Linked DNA regions of Homo sapiens. The protein of the gene in region 2 purifies or fractionates together with the protein of the main gene of each other region. This does not show direct contact. Each region holds a gene or a part of one and is shown on either strand. Other genes may lie near its edges.

Region 1 (8,058 bases), on a different chromosome or scaffold from region 2:
TGGGAGGCCGAGGCGGGTGGATCACGAGGTCAGGAGTTCAAGACCAGCCTGGCCAAGATGGTGAAACCCCTTCTCTATTAAAAATACAGAAATTAGCCAGGCAGGGTGGCAGGCGCCTGTAATCCCAGCTACTCAGGTGGCTGAGGCAGGAGAATCGCTTGAACTCAGGCAGCAGAGGTTGAAGTGAGCCGAGATCATGCCACTGCACTTCAGCCTGGGAGACAGAGTGAAACTCCATCTCAAAAAAAAAGAATTAATGTAGTTTTTCCAAAGTTTTTCTGGTACAGAAATCTATATTTTTAAACATTTGGCAATTCAGCCTTAAATGTTATAACTTTTAGACCTAATGCATTTTTGTAAAGTAGCCAAGATAATGGAAGTAAGTAAATATAAATAACACAAGTAAAACAAAGGGATAGATTAGAATTCTGCATTAGAAAGTGAAAGGAGGGCCAGGTGCGGTGGGTAAGCCCAGCACTCGAGGCAGGTGGATCACTTGAGGTCAGGAGTTCAAGACTAGCACGGCTAACACGGTGAAACAACGTCTCTACTAAAAATACAAAAATTAGCCAGGTGTGGTGGTGGGTGCCTGTAATCCCAGCTACTCGGGAGGCTGAGGCAGGAGAATCGCTTGAACCCGGGAGGCAGAGGTTGCAGTGAGCCAAGATCAGGTCACTGGACTCCAGCCTGGGCAAGAGAGCAAGAGTCTGTCTCAAAAAATAAAAAATAAAAAAATAAGTTAATCTAAGTCCGAAAAATATAAGTATTTGTTAAAATTAAGATTGGCAGGATATTACTACACTCTGATCCTAGGAAAAAGGAAAAAGACTAATATGCCTTGACTAATTTTGTTTTGTCTTTTTTCTGATAGAAAAACCACGTGGGTTTAATCCTTCCAAAGATTCACAGAAAATAAATAACAACACATAAGTTGGTAAGGAAAAAAAAAAGAACTAAACACGTCTGACAACATGCTTTCTACTAGTCTCCAGCGTGGGTGTACCGGCATTATAAGGGAGCAAGACCAAGCAAGCACCTTTTCGGACAGACATCTTAGATTAACAAGCAGACACAGTATCTGTTTATACACTTCCAAGAGTATGTTTAAAGCCTGTATTTTTTAAATGGCTTACAAAAAAAGGTATACAAAAACATAATTTTGGCCACACACACACACAAAGAGTATTAGAATTAAATTATACTTTTATACTTTTCTTTCAGACACAAGCATTTATCAGGTATCTGGTTCATCTTCAAACTCAAAAAAAAAAATTTATAGAAACCCCTATGTAGTCTGTTAAGTCCTTCACTCAACCATTCTTTTTTATTTTTTGAGATGGAGTTTCGCTCTTGTTGCCCAGGCTGGAGTGCAATGGCACGATCTCGGCTCATCGCAACCTCTGCCTCCCACTCCCAGGTTCAAGCGATTCTCCTGCCTCAGCCTCCTGAGTAGCTGGGATTACAGGCATGTGCCACTACACCTGGCTAATTTTGTACTTTTACCAGAAACGGGGTTTCTCCATGTTGGTCACGCTGGTCTCAAACTCCTGACCTCAGGTGATCCACCCGCCTCAGCCTCCCAAAGTGCTGGGATTACAGGCGTGAGCCACTGCGCCCGGCCTCAACCATTCACTTATATATATATTAAATATTAGAAACTGAAGTATCAAGATATTCACCACTTCCTCTGACCACTGTATTAGAGTTTTAAACTGGGTTTCAGCTTTGAAACAAAAAATAACCACCCTTCTGAAATTTTTTACAAAATCATAATACATATTGAAACATATCCAGAAAAGTTAGAAAATATAGGTAAGCATAAAGAAGGAAAGATTCTTTTGTTTTTGTTTTTTTGAGACAGACTCTAGCTCTGTCACCCAGGCTGGAGTGCAGGGGCACAATCTCAGCTCACTGCAAACTCTGCCTCCCAGGTTCAAGCAATTCTCCTGCCTCAGCCTCCCAAGTAGCTGGGACTACAGGTGTGCGCCACCACACCCAGCTAATTTTTGTATTTTTAGTAGAGACGGGGTTTCTCCATGTTGGCCAGGCTGGACTCAAACTCCTGACCTCAAGTGATTCGCCCACCTCGGCCTCCCAAAGTGCTAGGATTACAGGCATGAGCCACCATGCCTGGCCAGCAGTAAAGTTTAACTGACTATAATCTTAGTTACCAGAAATCAAACAGCTAGGTGCCTAAAACTTATTCTAAAATGTGTATACAGTAAAAAAAATTATTGGTCCTAGTTCCTTTACAAATTAAAACATCTGCCCAAGCATGGTGGCTTGCACCTATCCCAGCACTTCCAGAGGCCAAGGCGGGCAGATCACTTGAGAGTAGGAGTTCAAGACCAGCCTGGCCAACATGGTAAAACCCCGTCTCTACTAAAAATAAAAAAAATTAGCTGGACATGGTGGCAGCCACCTGTAATCCCAGCTACCAGGGAGGCTGAGGCAGGAGAATCACTTGAACCTGGAAGGCAGAGGTTGCAGTAAGCAGAGATCATGCCACTGTACTCCAGCCTGGGCAACAGAGTGAGACTCTGCCTCCAAAAAAAAAAAAAAAAAAAAAAAAGCCAGGCATGGTAGCTCATGCCTGTAATCCCAGCACAGCGGGTGGATCACCAGAGGTCACGAGTTCAAGACCAGCCTAGCCAACATGGTGAAACCTTGTCTCTACTAAAAATATAAAAAATGAGCAGGGCATGGTAGCACCTGTAATCCCAGCTACTCGGGAGGCTGCACTCCAGCCTGGGCGACAGAACGAGACTCCAACTCAAAAAAAAAACAAGAACAAAAACTAAAATATCCTGAAAACGATTACTTAAGGAGTTAAAGTTGAAAATAATTCTATGCAAGCACAAGTTTAGGTAGTTCAAGTGTAAAAAATACATAACTGAAATCCTTCTTGCTTAACAGAAAATTAACTCCAGAGAAGGAAATATGTATGACAAAAAAACAGCCTCCCAAAAGTTGAAGGAAAAAAAAACACTCAACTAAACATTTGAAAATTATTTTTTCAAGTACTAGTCTGTCCAAAGCAAATAAGAAGGACTCAGCTGGGCAAAGTAGCATGCTCCTGTATTCCCAGCTACTCAGGAGGCTGAGGCAGGAGGATCGCCCTGTTCAGGCCAGGAGTTTGAGGCTTCAGTGAGCTATGATGGCACCACTGCACTCTGATGACAGAGTGAGAATATGTCTCAAAAAAAAAGGATTCCACTTACATAAAACTTAAAAATTTGTAGCTGTAGGCAAACTTAAAAAAATTATTTTAAAAAAATATTTTTAAATCATACTTTACCTTTGAGATTCCTAGAATGTATAACCAACTCTCTCCAGTACACTTACCCCTAAAGAAAAAAAAAAGGAAAAAGGAAAAAATAATAAACTGAATGTCTTATCACTGGAATGTACCTACTTTCGCTATTAAACTACCTACAAACATTACAAGTAGCTGGGCGCAGTGGTTCATGCCTGTAATCCCAGTACTTTGGGAGGCCGAGGCAGATGAACTACTTGAACTCAGGAGTTTGAGACCAGTGTGGGCACCTCTACAAAAACTACAAAACTTGTATTTAAAACTCGTCTGGTCAAACAAAAATAAAATACAAAATACAAGTTAGCCAAGCATGGTGTCATGTGCCTGTGGTCCCAGCTACTCAGAAGGCTGAGGCAGGGGAATCTCTTGAGACAGGGAGGTGGAGGCTGCAGTGAGCTGTGATAGCGTTACTGCACTCCAGCCTGCATGACAGACCAAGACCTTGTCTCGAAAAAAAAAAAAAAAAAAAAACAATGTTAGGGGTAATTATTCCAAATAAACTAATGAAACTGAAGCATACATTTACAGAGCAGCAACTTTTGTATTGTTAGTTGCACCAACAAAAGATCAGTACATATTGTCACAATTTCCAGAACGCCATGATCAGGTAGTGTTACCATGTAAGGTAATAAGAACTATGTGCCATCACTGGAGACCAGCTCACAAACCCTCAGTGGAGCCAGCTGCGTAAAGTGAGAAGTGACAACATTGTGACGGTGGCTAAGAAAGCACCAGTAGAATAAAGTTCTTGGTTTTTTTTTGGGGGGGGGGGTTGTTTGTTTGTTTGTTGTTGTTTTTTTTTGAGACAGAGTTTTGTTCTTGTTGCTCAAGCTGGAGTGCAGTGGCGTGATCTCGGCTCACTACAACCCCAGCCTCCTGGGTTCAAGCGATTCTCCTGCCTCAGCCTCCTGAGTAGCTGGGATTACAGGCGCGAGCCACCACGCCCAGCTAATTTTTTGTATTTTTAGTAGAGATGGGATTTCATCATGTCGGCCAGGCTGGTCTCAAACTCCTGACCTCAGGTGATCCACCCGCCTCGGTCTCCCAAAATGCAGGGATCACAGGTGTGAGCCACTGTGCCTGGCCGAATAAAGTTTATTTTAAATTCTAGCAGCTAGGCATAGTGGCTCACGCCTGTAATCCCAAAGCTTTGGGAGGTCAAGGTGGGAGGATTGCTTGAGCCCAGGAGTTTGAGACCAGCCTGAGGAACATAGGGAGATCCTGTCTTCCCAATAAAAAAAAAATTCTTTTTTTAATTGGTCAGGCATGGTAGCTCACCCCTGTAATCCCAGCACTTTGGGAGGCCGAAGCGGGCAGTTCACCTGAGGTCAGGAGTTCAAGACCAGCCTGATCAACATGGTGAAACCCCGTCTCTACTAAAAATACAAAATTAGCTGGGCATGGTGGCACATGCCTGTAATCCCAGCTACTCGCGAGGCTGAGGCAGGAGAATCAGAAGGCAGAAACTGCGATGAGCTGAGATTGTGCCATTGTACTCCAGCCTGGGCAACAAGAGTGAAACTCCATCTCAAAAAATAAAAAACTAAAATTAATTAACCGGGTGTGGTAGCACATCCCAACCTACTCAGGAGACTGAAGTGGGAGGACAGCTTGAGCCCAGGAGGTCGAGACTGCAATGATCCCTGATAGCGCAACTGAACTCCAACCTAGACAACAGAGCAAGACCTTGCCTCAAAATTCAAATTCCTAGGCTCAAGTAATCTGACCGTCTCGGATTCCCAAAGTAAAATGTGCATCTTCTATGTGTAAAGTAAACATGGCAAAATGTTAACAGCAAATCTAGGTGAAGGGTATATGAATGTTTACTGAACAACCCTTCTGTAGGCTTACAATTTTTCAAAGAGTTGCAAAAACAATATTTAGAAGTTATGGATTACAAAAAAACAAAGCCTGCCGGGTACAGTGGCTCATGCCTGTAATCCCAGCCCTTTGGGGAGGCCGAGGCAGGCGGATCACAGGAGTTCAAGACCAGGCTTGCCAACATGGTGAAACCCCATCTCCACTAAAAATACAAAAAATTAGCCAGGTGTGGTGGCACGTGCCCATAGTACCAGTTACTCAGGAGGCTGAGGCAGGAGAATCTCTTGAACCCAGGAGGGGGAAGTTGCAGTGACTTGAGATGGCGCCACTGCACTCCAGCCTGGACCACAGAGCAAGACTCTGTCTCAAAAAACAAACAAAAAGAAAAAAACAAAACGAACAGCAGAAAATAGGGAAAGATACAAATAATAATTTAGCACGTATATTCTGCCTCCCAGAATTAGCTGTTGTCACAGTAGTGTCTAGTCTCAAAAAAAAAGTATAGATATCCTCAAAAGAAATTATAGATAACGGGCTGCGCGCGGTGGCTCACGCCTGTAATCCCAGCACTTTGGGAGGCCGAGGCAGGTGGATCACAAGGTCAGGAGATCAAGACCATCCTGGATAACATGGTGAAACCCCGTCTCTACTGAAAATACAAAAAATTAGCTGGGCATGGTGGCGGGCGCCTGTAGTCCCAGCTACTTGGGAGGCTGAGGCAGGAGAATGGCGTGAACTCGGGAGGCAGAGCTTGCAGTGAGCCAAGATCACGCCACTGCACTCCAGCCTGGGCGACAGAGCGAGACTCCGTCTAAAAAAAAAAAAATAAAATAAAATAAAATAAAATAAAAATTAGCCGGGCATAGTGGTGCATGCCTATAATCCCAGCTGCTCGGGAAGCTGAGGCAGGAGAAATGCTGGAACCCGGGAGACGGAGATTGCAGTGAGCCGAGATCGCGCATTTGCACTCCAGCCTGGGCAACAAGAGCAAAACTCCACCTCAAAAAAAAAAAAAAAATTATAGATATCATCCCCTTTGCCACTACCTCCCATTCATAATCCCTTATAGACGTGAAATTATAGAGTACGCCTATCTTCAACTTTACTAAGGGCTGCAAATACTGTCTTCAAAAGCAGCTATACCAGTTTACACTCAACCAACAGTTTTTTTTTCCTCCTCCTAACAGTAACCGGTAGCAGTTTCTTTTTTTTTTTTTTTTTATAAATTTTTTCTTTTTTAATAGAGACAGGGGTCTCACTTTGAGGCCCAGGCTGGTCTTGAACTCCCGGGTTCAAGGACTCAAGTGGCCCTCAAACTCCAAAAGTGCTAAAATTATAGGCATGAGCTACCACGCCTGGCCAGTAGTTTCAAAATTACCATTTTTGCCACATCTTCACCAACATTTGATATCGTCAGACATGAAATTTTTTTTTTGGCCGGGCGCGGTGGCTCACACTTGTAATCCCAGCACTATGGGAGGCCGAGGTGGGCAGATCACGAGGTCAGGAGTTCAAGACCAGCCTGGCCAATATGGTGAAACCCCGTCTCTACAAAAAAATACAAAAATTAGCCAGCCATCGTGGCACCCGCCTGTAGTCCCAGCCCAGGAGGGAGACTGAGGCAGGAGAATCGCTGGAACCCGGGAGGCAGAGGTTTCAGTGAGCCAAGATTACACCACTGCACTCCAGCCTGGGAGACAAGTAAGACTCCCTCTCAGAAAGAAGAACAGAAAAAGAAACAATGCCAGGTGTGGTGGTGCCGACCTATAGTCCTAGCTACTTGGTAAGGCTGAGGCAGGAGGATCACTCAAGTCCAGGAGTTCAAGTCCAGCCTGGGCAATGCAGCAAGACCTTGTTTCAAAAAAAAAGAAGGAAGAAGAAAGAAGGAAGAAGAATGAAGAGAAATAAAACAACCTAGGATCACACAGTAAAAGGTAAAAGAACCTCAGCAAAACAAGAACTTCACTTACAGACTTTCCCTTTTATTACCTCATACAAAATGATGAATAATCAAACCTATATGGCAGCATGTACTAAGAATGATTAGTCCCCATATGAAACCAAATGCTCACAAAAGCACAACATAGTGCTGGGAAATAATTTTTTGTCTTTTAAAAAATGTAAGATGGCCAGGCGCGGTGGCTCACGCCAATAATCCTAGCACTCTGGGGGGCCAAGGCGGGCAGATCACTTAAGGTCAGGAGGTTCGAGGCCAGCCTGACCAACATGGTGAAACCCCGTTTCTACTAAAAATACAAAAATTAGCCAGGCATGGTGGCAGCACCTGTAGTCCCAGCTACCTGGGAGGCTGAGGCAGGAGAATGGCATGAACCCGGTAGGCAGAGCTTGCAGTGAGCTGAGATCGCGCCACTGCACTCCAGCCTGGGCGACAGCCTGAGACTCCATCTCAGAAAAAAAAAAAAAAAATCCACCTCCATGATTTAAAGAAAACCAGCAAACAGTAAAATTTCTTTTCTCAGGCTTACATTAGAGCTTACAGAGCTGCAATCCCTTGGAAGTGGGGAGGTGCCTTAATACAAAAATTTAAAGGCCAACATATTCACTTTTCTTTCTTCTTCCGATTATTTTGTTCATTCCCCATTACCCTGAATGAAATATCTATGGTCTATTCTTTCAAAATGACTACTCTGGGCAGGACGCGGTGGCTCACATCAGTAATCCCAGCACTTTGGGAGTCCGAGGCAGGCAGATCACCTGAGGTCAGGACTTTGAGACCAGCCTGACCAACATGGTGAAACCTTGCCTCTACTAAAAATATAAAAATTATCCAGGCGTGGTGGCTGGTGTCTGTAGTCCCAGCTACTCAGGAAGCTGAGGCACAAGAATCGCTTGAACCCAGGAAGCTGAGGTCGCAGTGAGCGGAGATCATGCCACTGCACTCCAGCCTAGGCAACAGAGCC
Region 2 (6,587 bases):
TTTAAAGATAGAATTTGTTTACATTCTCTGGACCTTTTAAAATTCAGAATAGTAATATGATTATAATAAACTTCAAAGTCAAGTTATAGAAATAGATGTGAGAAATTGATCTGTAAATATCTGAAAATGTCTTTAGTAAACGGGTATTGCTTTTGTAACTGTTTTCAACTGTGTTTGTTGGAGAGTGGAATTAATGAAGCCAAGATGTGCCTGGTTTGGTATTCATAAAGGTCAACTCACTTTGCATTGAGGCAAAAGTTCCATAGTGCCTGCCCCTTACAGATGCATGTATACAGAGATTCACAGAGCTGCCAAATGCAAATCTATCGCTGTTCCTGAAATGTCAATAACCCAACATTTGTACATATCTTACATAGAATAGCTAGTTATTACTCTAACATGCCAAGATTTAATGAACAAAATTTAATACCACAGCCAAGCAGTGATGATTCCATTGACAGACTCTCCAGGAGCTTATAATCTAGTAATTCAGTAAAGTGACGTATCTCAGATAGTTTTCACAAAATATAGTGAAGACACACAATACAGAATGGTTTATTTGCAAGGTGTTGAGAAATGGTTCACGCAAGTCAAATCACTTTTGAGCCGTGTTTTGAAAAATGAGTAGATATTTACTGGCAATTGGGTTTGGGAGAGGCGAACAGACCATTCCAGATGTTATTTCACTTTTATTCTTTAGATACTGATTTAACACCTCTGTACCAACTACTATGATACAGATGCTAGAGATATGCTAAATGAAACAGCACATCCATAAAATGTATAGTGTGATGGAGTGGAGCACATCGTAAACAAAAGTCTAGAGGAAACTGAAAGTAAGGGAAGAGGTACAGAAAATTGAGGCTACAGAAGGGGCAAGGCCCAAATCATGAGGTTTTCCATATGCAGTAAGGAGTTTGGAATCCATCTTAGCAATAGCACTTGAGGTGTAGTGGAAATAATCAAGATTAGAGACAGGGACTTGGAATAACTCAGGCAATAAATAATGAGAGCCTAAACTAAAATGATAGCATAAGGGTGTGAAAAGGTTGGGGGGGCAGGGGGTGGGACATGTTAATGATACTTAAAAGGACAGAACCAACTGGGCACAGTGGCTCACACCTGTACTTCCAGCTGCTCTGGAGGCTAAGGCAGGAGTATCACTTGAGTCTGGAGTTGGAAACCAGCCTAGGCAATGTAGTAAGACCGTATCTCTATAAAAAGGGTGGAACCAACAGGACTGGGTCATTGATTTAATATGGGGGTTGAAAGTAAAGTGAAATATGATGGGTGCTCAGGATTCTGATTTGGGTGGGTGACTACCTTTCACTGAGGTAAGTTATATAGGAAATGGTTTCTGGAAAACATTAGTAAGGTCAGTTTTTAAACACTGAATCCAAGGTTGTCTTCTGGAATATCCAAATTGGTTATGACCAGAATGTGATTCATTATACTAAGCTAAAGGAATAGATTAAAGAATTAGCAACAGTGGCCGGGTGCAGTGGCTCATGCCTGTAACCCCAGCACTTTGGGGGAGGCCCAGGTGGGTGGATCATTTGAGGTCAGGAGTTTGAGACCAGCCTGGCCAACATGGTGAAACCTAAAAATACAAAAATTAGCCAGGTGTGGTGGCAGGTGCTTGTAATCCCAGCTGCTTGGGAGGCTGAAGCAGGAGAATTGCTTGAACCCGGAGGCAGGGGTTGCAGTGAGCCAAGATCACACCATTGCACTCCAGCCTGGGTGGCAGAGTGAGACTCTGTCTCAAAAATTAAAAAGCAACAGTGTATATGCAATAGTTGCAAGATGTAAGATCACCCAAAGAGTATGCAGAGGGAAATGAGGGACAGAACCCAGAAATATTAATACCCAGGGAGTGAACAGGAGGAGGACCCCAAGAAGTTACTGAGTCAGATTTTTCCCACTCATCCAGGTGAAAGTTTAGGTCAATAATGTGAAATACCAGAGGGATTAAATGTCTACAGAAATAAAACCATGTCTCACATTAAGACAAACAAGTAGGTTGGAGGGATATTTTGAAAGGCAAGGTGATATTAAACTTTATTCTGAAAGTAGTTTGTTAGAGAAAGAGGCATGATAAGAGTTGCAGTTAACTGATTGGAAACTATGCAGCAGATGAAACTGGAATAAAGGAAACTCATCAGGAAATGATTATAGTAATAAGGGCCAGAAATAAGGGCTTGCTTGCCTGAACTAAAAACAAAGAGGATACAAAGGTTCTAGAAATATTTCAAAGGAATTAGCTTTAATTCAGCAATACTCATTGAGAATCACCTATGCACCTGGCTCTGAAGATGAAGTGCTGAGTAAACTTAGACATGGACCCTGCTATCATGGAGATGGCAGATTATTGGTCAGAATGCTCTTACCTGTCATTGTAGCAATTTTGTTAGATCCTTAATACCTCTGAATTGCTAATAAACTTGTTTTGGCTGAAAAAATAGTCCTGTGAATTTTACCATGCAGTTAAATAAGAAACTAAAAGCAAACCTAAATACCACCAAAAAGGTTAGTAGTCTGTTATATGCATTAGCCTTAATCTAAGGAAATATTTTATTATAGGTCTCCTTGAAGAAAATGATATTTTCAGGAATGCTCAAGCAGGTGTTCTCATCAGCACTAATAGTCATCCAATCTTAAGGAAAAACAGAATATTTGATGGATTTGCCGCAGGTTTGTATTTTCTTTTCTTACCTGTGGCTTATATATAGTTCTGCAAAGTGTTTGATGTGGAGTATATTCATTTTGTTTTGCTTATTAACTAAAATGTGCAAAGTGTGCTGAAGTGGCTGAATGCCTGTTCATTCACTTACAAGAGCACCTAATCAAGTTCTGGATTCTTCTACTCTAAGCCAGACTCCTAAGAAATATTGCTCTTATTGCTTAGTCGTGATTATGAAACATTTATTGGGATAGAATAAATGCAGGCTTGTATTACCACTAGGAATACAGATAGATTCAATTCCTCAGATGAATTTACCAGTTTAAATCTGCAACAGAAAAAGAGATGTTAAAATGGATGCAAATGAAATCCAAGTATCATGTATTTAAACTTTAAGACAGTTAGGTTGGTGCGAAAGTTAATTGCAGTTTTGACCATAGTCATTGATAAGTGAATGTTACTGTTGGTGGTTGAAATAGGTATCTACATTTTATTCAGTAGACATTAAGAGGGTTAATGTACTTCTATAAAAGAAGCAGTTTACATTTGCTTGCTAATTTCAGGTTTTTAAGAAGCAGTATAAAGTGATGTATCTACTTGTTTGTAAATTTTACTTCAGGTATTGAAATTACAAATCACGCAACTGCAACACTAGAAGGCAATCAGATTTTTAACAACCGGTTTGGAGGCTTATTTTTAGCATCTGGTGTTAATGTGACAATGAAAGGTATGTTGGAGTCTGCTATACCTATAAATATATGCAATATGCCATGAAAGATAATCAGAAGCCGTTTTATAACTTGATTCCTTATGTCACTCTCCAAGTTAGCAACAGTTTAAGATAGATTTTGAAAGAAACAGAGCTTTGGTTCTAAATGGTTGGAGTATCTTATACAAGGAAAATTCTATTCTTAGCTGATTTCTTACAATTACTTCATTGGTTAGCTTCATTTAAAGCTCTTAAAAATAGTGGCTCTTCTGTTAGAATAATCCTATAATCTTTGGTTTTTAAAATATTAACATTCCTCTGAATTTTTACTTATTCTTTCTTTTATTACAGATAACAAAATAATGAACAATCAAGATGCCATAGAAAAGGCTGTTAGTAGAGGCCAATGTTTATATAAAATATCAAGTTATACCAGCTATCCCATGCATGATTTCTACAGGTAACTTAGAAATATATTTGAGTCCTGAAAAGAGGAAGACTGATTTCCTTTTTAAATTAGCAATGCCTAGCATTTTTGGCTATTTGCCGGTGTTGAGACTATAACTAACTGAAAATTTTATCATCAATCTACTTGAAGATCGTGTTTAAGACTGTAACTGTGGGTAGGCGTGGTGGCTTATGCCTGTAATCCTAGCACTTTGGGAGGCTGAAGTGGGAGGATCACTGGAGCCCAGGAGTTCTAAACCAGCCTGGGCAACATAGGGAGACCCTGTCTCTACAAAACAAAACAAAGACCATAACTATGGAAAAACCTAATGCTACAGTAACTGATGTCATTCATGTAACTCATGTTGTGTAATGTTTTCCTAGAAATTTCAAGGTAAAGATGTCGGGGTTAAGTGTTTGATATATCCCAGTCACTGTGACAGTTTTGACTCTTCACGCCTCCAAAAATTGTTTTCAGCCCAGAAACATTTGAGAGGCTTTTAAAGTGGAAAGAACTGCCTTTATACAATTTACAAATCATTTCTCTTCCCTCCGAAGACACAGATGACAGGAAAATCACTTACTCCATTAAAGTTCCTTTTCAGAATTAATCTGGGCTGGAGCCACAAAGAATTTTGTTTTGGTCCTCTTAAAGCCAAAGGTCATAGTAATATATAAACAGAATGGAATGTTTTGCATTAATGACATGTTTGAGAAAAGTAATTTAAGCTTTTGCTTTTTAGATGTCATACTTGTAACACCACAGATCGAAATGCCATATGTGTGAACTGCATTAAGAAGTGCCATCAGGGACATGATGTAGAGTTTATTAGACATGATAGGTATGTAGCACACTTGCTTGATATATTACCCAATTACTTTCCCCCTCACTTTTCTAATATTTGGGTTTCATTTTGCTTTAGGTTTTTCTGTGACTGTGGTGCTGGAACACTGTCTAATCCTTGTACATTAGCTGGTGAGCCTACACATGATACAGATACACTATATGACTCTGCTCCACCTATAGAATCTAATACATTGCAGCACAACTGAATTCCTTCCCTAAAGAAAAAGTCCTGCCATTGTAACATCATAACTTAAAACACTTTTTTGGAAGAAGATTTAAAATATTTGCCCATGCTACAGGAAGAGACTGTATTAAAAATGGATACACAAGGTCAGTTGACACTATGAAGCTCAAGCTACCAAAAAGAAAGTGGCAATATATTGACTCAGGATCTCAAAGCTGGGTGTTTTAGCATTACTGTGTAAAGACTTGAAGGGACAGAAGTGAAGAAAATAAGCTGCAATTTTGTACAGATACCAACTTCTGAAAAGCTGGTGTTTTTACAACTAGCATTGAATGCAGTCCAATTTGCAGTAGTAATCTTCAATAGACAAGCAGCTTTGTTGCTGCCTTTATGGACATGGGTACCAATTGCTTTTGTAATATGGTAAAAATGTGAGCTAGCACTTCTGCGTTCCTTTTGATTTTTTTTTTTTAACATGTATTCAGATTGAGAAATATGATTTTAATGCTTTAATCTCATGTAGTTTGTTTTTAATTTCAAGCAAAATCTTACTGTACTTGAATGTGCCCTGTTTTGTTAGCACACCTAGACTTGCTGTAACTGTACTCATGTCCCAGTATGTACGTTCTTTCTATGAAAGAGAAAACACTAATCTTAAATTATATCCAGCAATGTTTCTGGTATCCTTTAAGAAAAGTTAAGACTATTATTTCCTTCCCTTCCCTGTGCAGCATTCAAAATCACCCCTAGAAAAAGTGAGTGTTTTAATGAGACTTCCTAGGAAGGGATGCACTGTAAAACAAAAGTATTCTTGTAACTCAGTTTTGTGAAAGGTAAAAAACTACTATGTTTTAAGTACACTTTAGAAAGTCTCTTCAAAACAAACAGTCCTGTATTTGAACTCTGTTCATAGTTTTTTTTTGAACAGTTTAGACAAAACTGCTGGAAATTAAACCAATTTCCTGCATTAAGCTGAGACAAGTATATATACAGCCCTATACAGTTTCATAGCTTTTCCTCCCCCATTTATGTGTATTGGTGACAGTGGGTATAAAACAGCCTGAAAGTGTATGCATGTACCATAACATCTAGACTTAATATATTGTGGAGTATTCAATAACCATTATGTAGAAGGTAGATAAGAATTAAAAGGGTTTAATTTCCTAGAAAGAAAATGGAAAAATGGTCATTTTTAAAAAATAAAGTTTATTAGATCATAATGTTGTCTGAATTTACCACCTTTGTCAGAAGTCAACTCAAAGCTTCCAATGTAGTCAGTCTATAATTCCTTAATCAAAGTCAGCAATTTATGGACAGCTTCAGCATCTACAGTTGACCTTTCACTAGCCAGGCAAACTTCCCTTAAAATTAAAAAAAAAAAAAAAAAAGTTTTTTTGTTTTTTCATAGTGCATCATCCCTTCCCCTTTTACTGTTTCTTTGAAACTTAAGGTCAGTTAGTTATAATTCCATTATAGTTAGTTAGTTACCGAAATAATCGTAGTGACTGATTCATCTTCTCAAATTCTCTTGCTTTTCTATGTCCCTTTTGAATAACTTCCTCTGGGAGATTAGCAAGCCTTGCTGCATTAAAGCCATAGCTTTTAGGACAAGCTCCCTTAATGAATTTATAGAGGAACGTAATAGTCTCCTGGCTGGGGTCTTCACATTCATTTTCTACCATGCATGCCTTAAGAAAGAAAAATATTAGCGATACATGTG
Region 3 (8,058 bases), on a different chromosome or scaffold from region 2:
AGGTTAGTCCCTTGCATCCATTTTTCCCTCCTTGTGCCCTTCCATCCCCTTTTTTTGTGGGACATCGTGGTAACACTACTCACAGACGTGCTGAATTCTGAGGCTCTTCCTCGCTTCTTGTGTTTTCTTTGGGTCACACCCTTTGGCAGCTTAGTGGCCCATCCTTGAGTGGATACTGAATGAGGTATCACCCGTTACGTGCTGAGGCAGGGCTGGCCAGGCTCCAGGGGTTCTTCTGTGCCTTATGCAGCCACACCATTGCCCACTGGGGTTCACAGATTTGGGGAACTCCAGATCTGCTCTATCTGCTTTTTTTTTTTTTTTTTTTTTTTTTGAGACGGAGTTTTGCTCTTGTTGCCCAGACTGGAATGCAGGGGCACAATCTCGGCTCACTGCAACCTCCGCCTCCCAGGTTCCAGCGATTCTCTTGCCTCAGCCTCCCACATAGCTGGGATTACAGGCGCCTGCCATCACACCTGGCTAATTTTGTATTTTTAGTAGAAACAGGGTTTCGCCCTGTTGGTCAGGCTGGTCTCAAACTCCTGACCTCAGGTGATCCGCTCGCCTTGGCCTCCCAAAGTGCTGGGATTAAAGGTGTGAGCCACTGCACCTGGCCCCAGATCTGCTCTTTCTAATACAGCACCCAGTACCCTCATAGGGATATTTACTTATTTTATTTTTATTTATTTATTTGTTTTTTGAGACAGAGTCTCAGTCAGTTGCCCAGGCTGGAGTGCAGTGGCGAGATCTCAGCTCACTGCAACCCCCGCCTCCCAGGTTCAAGCAATTCTCCTGCCCCAGCCTCTCAAGTAGCTGGGATTACGGGCACGTGCCACCACACCTGGCTAATTTTTTGTATTTTTATTAGAGACAGTTTCACCATGTTGGTCAGGCTGGTCTCAAACTCCTGAGTTCAGGTGATCCACACACTTCGGCCTCCCAAAGTGCTGGGATTACAGGCGTGAGCCACTGTGCCCAGCCAGTAGTGTCTCTTCTGCTGGAAGCTGGATGCTGAGCTTAGGCTTTTATGCTGTGTCTCCAGGGTCAGAGGAAAGGTCAGATGGCTTAGAGTATGGGCCATCAGCTTGCTTCTGGTTAGTCGGCCCAGTGATCCCCCAACACCCATCCCACTGCCAGTTTGCTAGGAGTATTTCAGATTTGTAAAGTGGGGTTGGGGTCAGGTGGGACCACTGAGGCAGGAGAGGAGTGCTATTCTTAGAAGGAGGAATCGACCCTAGAACTCTGCAGTGGAAGGGTGGCAGGACATGTTCCAGGGAGCACAGTTTGGGAACAGATACAAATACTCTACCCCTCTTCTAGGTTCACAGCAAGGCCACTGGTACAGACAATCTTTGAAGGTGGAAAAGCAACTTGTTTTGCATATGGCCAGACAGGAAGTGGCAAGACACATGTGAGTATTGAGGCCTGGCGGGGAAAGAGCCTTTCCCTTGTGCACCCCTGGCTCCCTATAAAGGGAGACAATGAGTTTGTTGAGAAAGGCCCCTTGTTACAGATGCCCCATCACCAGATAGCCTTGCCATGTCAGATGCAGGGAGGGGCTTTAGGTCCAGCCTTCTGGCTTTGTTGTGGCCCACTGTAGTGAAGGAGCCAGTAGTGCTCTGCTCTAGGCCAACAGCCCTTTTCCATGGTCTTCTACCCCTTCCCTTTGCAGACTATGGGCGGAGACCTCTCTGGGAAAGCCCAGAATGCATCCAAAGGGATCTATGCCATGGCCTGTAAGTACTGTGTACTGCTGCTTCAGGGTTGGGCACAGAAAGGCAGGTTGTTTGCTTAGCAAAGTTCTCTCCCTCAGCCCGGGACGTCTTCCTCCTGAAGAATCAACCCTGCTACCGGAAGTTGGGCCTGGAAGTCTATGTGACATTCTTCGAGATCTACAATGGGAAGGTAGCTGGCAGGAAGCCCCTTGTTTACACTGTTGGGGCCCAGCACTTTTTAAAACCTTGAAGCTGGCTAGAAGTTGAGGCCAAAAACCTATTAGCTGATTAGCTGTCAAGCCACTGATGGGCCATTCTGCCCTGGCATACACATGTAGGTGGTTTAATCTGATGGTGAGATGGCACCTAAGTTCAAGAAGTATGGCAAGAATACTCCTCAGGGCGCCCTTTCAGGTGCAAGGTTTGCCTGTGTGTGTCCTGACCTCCCTCGGCCGACCTCCTTCATCCCTTCTTCCCCGATTGTGCACGTTCAGTCTCATATTCATTCTTTCCCTGCCCGCACCACCATATATCTCTTCCACCCCTCTCTCTATTCACTGTGTGCTTCTGCAGAGTTGCTTTCCTTAGAGTGGGATCTAGATAATAAAAATAGCTAATATTTATCATTAATAAGATATTAGGGGCCAGGCGTGATGGCTCACACCTGTAATCCCAGCACTTTGGGAGGCCGAGGCGGGCAGGTCACCTGAGGTCAGGAGTTTGAGACCAGCCTGGCTAACATGGTGAAACCCCATCTCTACTAAAAACACAAAAAATTAGCTGGGCATGGTTAGGGGCACCTGTAATCCCAGCTACTCGGGAGTCTGAGGCAGGAGAATCGCTTGAATCCAGGAGGCAGAGGTTGCAGTGAGCCGTGATCGCACCATTGCACTCCAGCCTGGGCGATACGAGCGAAACTCCGTCTCAAAATAATAATAATAATAAGATATTAGGAGCTATGCACTATTCTAAGCACTACCTGTCTCACCTTTACAGATGAGATGCAAGGCTAGAGTGGTTATTAACTTGCCCAGGCTCACACAGCTAGTAAGTTACCAGAGTCACAGCAAACTGAGGCAGTTCGGCTCAGATCCCAAGTATATTGACCTCTGCTAGGCTGACATCCATCAGTTCGTATTCTCTGCCTTTCCTGCTGCTGGCTCTTGTCCGAGCTGGGCAGGCTAGTAGGAGGAAGCAGTCGGGTGGGGTGCCGGGTGCCCAGTGGCCTTAGCCTCATTCCCCCTGCCTGGCACAGCTGTTTGACCTGCTCAACAAGAAGGCCAAGCTGCGCGTGCTGGAGGACGGCAAGCAACAGGTGCAAGTGGTGGGGCTGCAGGAGCATCTGGTTAACTCTGCTGATGATGTCATCAAGATGATCGACATGGGCAGCGCCTGCAGGTGAGAGTCCTGGTGAGGGGAAGGAGCGACCTTCTCATGTCTGGTTTATGAGTAAAGTCTAGCTCTGAGCACATTTCTGTTTACCCAGAGTGCTGCTTTGCCCAGTTTGGTAAGGGCTGCGAAGGCCTCTGCTTTACGGGGTCTCAATAAGACATATGACCCCAGGGCCAGAGGCTTATCAGAACCAAGTCAGGTCAGGCACAGTGGCTCACACCTATAATCTCAGCAGTTTGGGAAAATGAAGCAGGAGGATCACTTCAGGCCAGGAGTTAGAGGTTGCAGTGAGCTGTGATCGCACCACTGCACTCCAGTCTGCATGGGCAGAGCAAGATCCTGTCTCAAAAAAATAAAAATAAAAACAAGTCAAAGTGTTACCCCAAAGGCATGCTTCCTGGCTTCTTTGGGTTCTCCTTGCTCTTCCCTCCCTTTGTGGTGGAAGTCGGGAGCTCTGGGTCTGTTCTGGGCTGGAAGTAATGGGTTCATACCCCCTCTGCACAGAATTAGGGGAGCACTTTTCCACTAGGGCTGTAGACATTGGTACAGTGGGGCGCTACGCAGCTATAGAGGCCCAGGGAGGGGGCTGCCCTCTACAGGGTCCTCAAGTTCTGGCAGGTGGTTCATGACAGCTTCCCCCTTCCCTTTGGGCCCTTTAGCAGAGGGAATTTATCCTTCCCCGTGTCCTTCTAGGGCTCCAGGTCTGACAAAGGCCCTAGTCCAGAATCCAGTACTAATTTGGCTGCCAGGAAAATGTATTAGGTCCAGAGCTGGAGGGAGAATTGCTACCCAGGGAGGGCAAGATGGAAGCCTGGGACAGGAAAACAGGACTTTTTCGCCTCCTAACCTGTGTCCCTCCCTTCCTAGAGAACTTCTGTGGACTTGGGTGCCATGGGGGCTGGTGACCACAGAATCTCATAACCTTTCTTTACCACAGAACCTCTGGGCAGACATTTGCCAACTCCAATTCCTCCCGCTCCCACGCGTGCTTCCAAATTATTCTTCGAGCTAAAGGGAGAATGCATGGCAAGTTCTCTTTGGTAGATCTGGCAGGGAATGAGCGAGGCGCGGACACTTCCAGTGCTGACCGGCAGACCCGCATGGAGGGCGCAGAAATCAACAAGAGTCTCTTAGCCCTGAAGGTAGTGGGGCAGCTAGAGCTGGTTGGCCGGGAGAGCTACTGGGAAGGGATGGGGAGGGATCAGTGCAAGGAAAGAAGGGACCTCAGTTGTTCCTGCTGCCCCCACAGGAGTGCATCAGGGCCCTGGGACAGAACAAGGCTCACACCCCGTTCCGTGAGAGCAAGCTGACACAGGTGCTGAGGGACTCCTTCATTGGGGAGAACTCTAGGACTTGCATGGTGAGTAGGGTCACTTTGAAGGTGATGGTACAGGAGGAGACAGAGTTGCTTTCCACAGAGACACTTAGTCCTGTCCCTGGGCTGGAAGCTCAGCACTGCTGGCTGCCTGGGTTTCCAGGCTGTACCGTGACTGGGCTTCCAGACCCTGCTTTAATGCACGAGACTCCTTGTGGCCTAACCAAGCGTGGAGGAAAGGATCTATTCCCTTTAAGATGTGTAGGTGCAGCTCTTGGTTTGGGAGAGGTCATTCCTGCATTACCTGATGAAAAGGGGGTTCCAGAATTCGGAAGATGGGCCTTTGGGTCAGCAGGAGAGGGAAGTCCTTGTCTTTTCCATGGCCTCCCTCAGGTTCACTGGCTCCCAGCCTAGAAAATAGAAATAGCCTGGATCATAAGGCTGTGTCCTTGAATGACGTCCTCTTTCCTGTTTTATCCCCAAGCCCCTGTATGTGAGATCTGCCATCCTTCCCCTCAAGAGAATATTCTCCCCTACCCTTTGGGTAGGAGTCCTTTCATGAGGAAGGTGGGATTTTCTGACTAAGCTCTACCTAAGGCATTATCCTTTGGCCTAAGGGAACTGAAGTTTCCAGCAGAAGCCACAGAGCTTTAAGATAGGACCTTGGGCTGGGCGCGGTGGCTCACGCCTGTAATCCCAGCACTTTGGGAGGCCGAGAGGCAGGTGGATCACAAGGTCAGGAGATAGAGACCATCCTGGCTAACATGGTGAAACCCCATCTCTATTAAAAAATAAAAAAAATTAGCCAGGTGTGGTGGCAGGTGCCTGTAGTCCCAGCTACTCGGGAGGCTAAGGCAGGAGAATGGCGTGAACCTGGGAGGCAGAGCTTGCAGTGAGCTGAGATCGCACCACTGCACTCTGGTCTGGGCGACAGAGTGAGACTCCGTCTCAAAAAAAAAAAAGAAAAAAGAAAAAGATAGGACCTTGGTAGCAAGACTGTCTCAGTGAAGGAATAATGAAGCAAAAGATAATTAGATGTGTCTTTGAAAGCAGGAAACCAATGTCTGAGGCACCTTAATTTGCAGTGCCCATGGGGCAAGTGGCCTAGCACAGCGCGGTGCTAAATGACTCCTCCCACCAATACCATGTGGGTCTCCAAAGCTTGAAGAAACACCCTGACTGGAGGCCCCTCAGGGACAGGCTATATAGCATCCTCACCGTGCCTCTCAGCCTTTAATCACCCACCCCTCTTTTGCAGATTGCCACGATCTCACCAGGCATAAGCTCCTGTGAATATACTTTAAACACCCTGAGATATGCAGACAGGTACTAGTACCTACAGCTAGGTGGGATGCGGAACAGGACTGGGCAAGGGAAGGGCAGTGATGAGAGGGGAGGAGGCTCTGGGGCCTCAGGGCCTACTGTATACTCCTCTGTGACTCTGAACCTGAGGCTTGGGAGTTCCGCCGTGATGCTAGGTCTGTCCCAATCCTCTCCGGGCCCTGCTGGAGAGTCAGCTGGGTGAGGGGCTTTTCCAGTCCAGCTTTAGTTTTCTCTCTCCTTGGCTGAAGGCAAGGTTGCCATTCCATCCCCTTGGAGCCTCAAGCCTCGAAGCCTGGGCGGTGCCACATTCCTCTGGTGAGTACCAAGGGGGTGCTGTGGGATCTGAGACCTCCTTGTTTCCTCAGGGTCAAGGAGCTGAGCCCCCACAGTGGGCCCAGTGGAGAGCAGTTGATTCAAATGGAAACAGAAGAGATGGAAGCCTGCTCTAACGGGGCGCTGATTCCAGGCAATGTAAGGACCAGGATGCGGCCAAGCAAGACAGAAGTGTGGCCTGCTGAGGCGGCACCTGGGTCACATAATTGTCTTTCTTTTTGGCCCTCTCAGTTATCCAAGGAAGAGGAGGAACTGTCTTCCCAGATGTCCAGCTTTAACGAAGCCATGACTCAGATCAGGGAGCTGGAGGAGAAGGCTATGGAAGAGCTCAAGGAGATCATACAGGTAGGCAGCTGGCCCTGGACAGGGAGCTGGATGCAGCACGGCCCTCAGTATGCTCCACACCATTCCCAGAACATGACCTGGGCCTTGTTCCCACAGGTATTCACATAGCAAGAAGCAGCCCTCTACACCAGCACTCTTTAATTCTTTGCCTGTTAACCCAGCTGTTCTTCTAATTATCACAACCCCTTCTGCAGGTTGGCACACATAGGCTTTCTGACATCACACTAGCCAGAGCTAGTCTCTCCTCCACGCTCCTGATAGAGGATTTGAAGGGTGATCCATATGCAGGGATCTTGTCTTGTGTTTTGGTGAATGTTGCAACTCTTGTGCTGAATCCAAGGGCCAAAAAACATGAAGTATAGGTAATAGGCCCTAAGGGTATGACTTGAGATCAATCCTGTCTCTTCCATTCACAAACTGATTTCCTTGTGAAATTCATTTAGCCTCACTGGGCCTCAGTTTTTGCATCTCTGAAATGGTCAAGGTAGGATGGTTGTATTTGAGCGTTCAGTAATATGCTTATAAAGTGTCAGCACAGTACCCAGTGTGTGGTCAGGGTTCAGTAACTGGTAGGTGCCCCTGCTACTGTAATCCCTACTGTGGAAGAGCAAGTGACTGGGAGGCAGGAATTTACGTCCCAATGGTGGGGCGCTCAGAGGATTGCAGAGCAGGAAGGAAGAACTTGGGGCAGGTGTAACTGAGGAGGGACTGTGAAGGGTAAGTGCTCAGGCCTCTCCTCCCCTTCCTGGAGTGCTCAGGGGTACAGAGTTTTGTAAGCACATGGCACTTTCAGGATGAATGAGAGGCTCACCGTGGTCAGAGCAAAAGGAGTGAACAGGTGATGGAGGGTAGTTAAGGCTGTGGACAGGTCAACAGGGATCTGATGCTAGAGTCTTCTAGATGGTTCATCTCACAGGCCTGGACTGCATCATGAGGAAGCCTTTGGAGGGTGTTAAGCAGAGTGGTGACATGGGCATGTCAGAGCTTTAGATATATCATATGGCCACCATGTGGAGCCTGGTTTGGGGGCTTGAGAAAAGCAAAGGTAGAGGCAGTTAGGAGATTGTTGGAAAGGGTTCAAGAAAAACTATTGCCAGCCAGGCGCGGTGGCTCATGCCTGTAATCCCAACACGTTGGGAGGCCGAGGCGGGTGGATCATGAGGTCAGGAGTTCGAGACCAGCCTGGCCAACGTGGCGAAACCCCATGTCTACTAAATACAAAAAATTAGCCGAGTATGGTGGCGGGCGCCTGTAATCTCAGCTACTTGGGAGGCTGAGGCAGGAGAATTACTTGAACCAGGGAGGCAAAGGTTGTAGTGAGTCAAGATCGTGCCACTGCACTCTAGCCTGGGTGACAGAGCAAGACTCCATCTCAGAAAAAAAAAAAGAGAAACTAGTGCCTAGACCAAACTGTGTCCGTGTTCATGGGATTGGAATGAGGACATGAGATTCATGAACCATTTAGATATACAAGCATGAAAATCTTACAAGGTACCCCCCAAAATATGTACTCTCTCTCTATATATATATGTTTTTGAGACAGAGTCTCACTCGTCACCCAGGCTGGAGTTTAGTGGTGCAATCTTGGCTCACTGCAGCCTCCGCCTCCTGGGTTCAAGCGATTCTCCTTCCTCA

Evidence for each region.
Region 1: the proteins of FBXO11 (region 2) and GAPVD1 purify together in Homo sapiens (co-immunoprecipitation; 2 studies listed by BioGRID and IntAct, with this or other methods). This does not show direct contact.
Region 3: the proteins of FBXO11 (region 2) and KIF2C purify together in Homo sapiens (co-immunoprecipitation; 2 studies listed by BioGRID and IntAct, with this or other methods). This does not show direct contact.

Annotation. Positions count from the first base shown.
Region 1 is NC_000009.12:125,264,225-125,272,282, reverse strand, and holds part of GAPVD1 (GTPase-activating protein and VPS9 domain-containing protein 1), read right to left. Parts: intron 3,348-8,058; 5' UTR 3,299-3,347; intron 1-3,298. UniProt on the Homo sapiens protein: Acts both as a GTPase-activating protein (GAP) and a guanine nucleotide exchange factor (GEF), and participates in various processes such as endocytosis, insulin receptor internalization or LC2A4/GLUT4 trafficking.
Region 2 is NC_000002.12:47,806,420-47,813,006, reverse strand, and holds the end of FBXO11 (F-box only protein 11), read left to right. Parts: intron 1-2,580; coding exon 2,581-2,691; intron 2,692-2,905; exon of another isoform or gene 2,906-3,008; intron 3,009-3,299; coding exon 3,300-3,407; intron 3,408-3,740; coding exon 3,741-3,849; intron 3,850-4,420; exon of another isoform or gene 4,421-4,484; intron 4,485-4,579; coding exon 4,580-4,678; coding exon of another isoform or gene 4,679-4,759; coding exon 4,760-4,889; 3' UTR 4,890-6,087; downstream 6,088-6,587. Other genes in the region: DNA mismatch repair protein Msh6, read right to left, coding at 6,147-6,228, 6,356-6,555. UniProt on the Homo sapiens protein: Substrate recognition component of a SCF (SKP1-CUL1-F-box protein) E3 ubiquitin-protein ligase complex which mediates the ubiquitination and subsequent proteasomal degradation of target proteins, such as DTL/CDT2, BCL6, SNAI1 and PRDM1/BLIMP1.
Region 3 is NC_000001.11:44,756,236-44,764,293, forward strand, and holds part of KIF2C (kinesin-like protein KIF2C), read left to right. Parts: coding exon 1-2; intron 3-1,320; coding exon 1,321-1,411; intron 1,412-1,672; coding exon 1,673-1,736; intron 1,737-1,813; coding exon 1,814-1,905; intron 1,906-2,970; coding exon 2,971-3,113; intron 3,114-4,044; coding exon 4,045-4,249; intron 4,250-4,356; coding exon 4,357-4,467; intron 4,468-5,680; coding exon 5,681-5,748; intron 5,749-5,799; exon of another isoform or gene 5,800-5,872; intron 5,873-6,110; coding exon 6,111-6,216; intron 6,217-6,309; coding exon 6,310-6,423; intron 6,424-8,058. UniProt on the Homo sapiens protein: In complex with KIF18B, constitutes the major microtubule plus-end depolymerizing activity in mitotic cells. Regulates the turnover of microtubules at the kinetochore and functions in chromosome segregation during mitosis.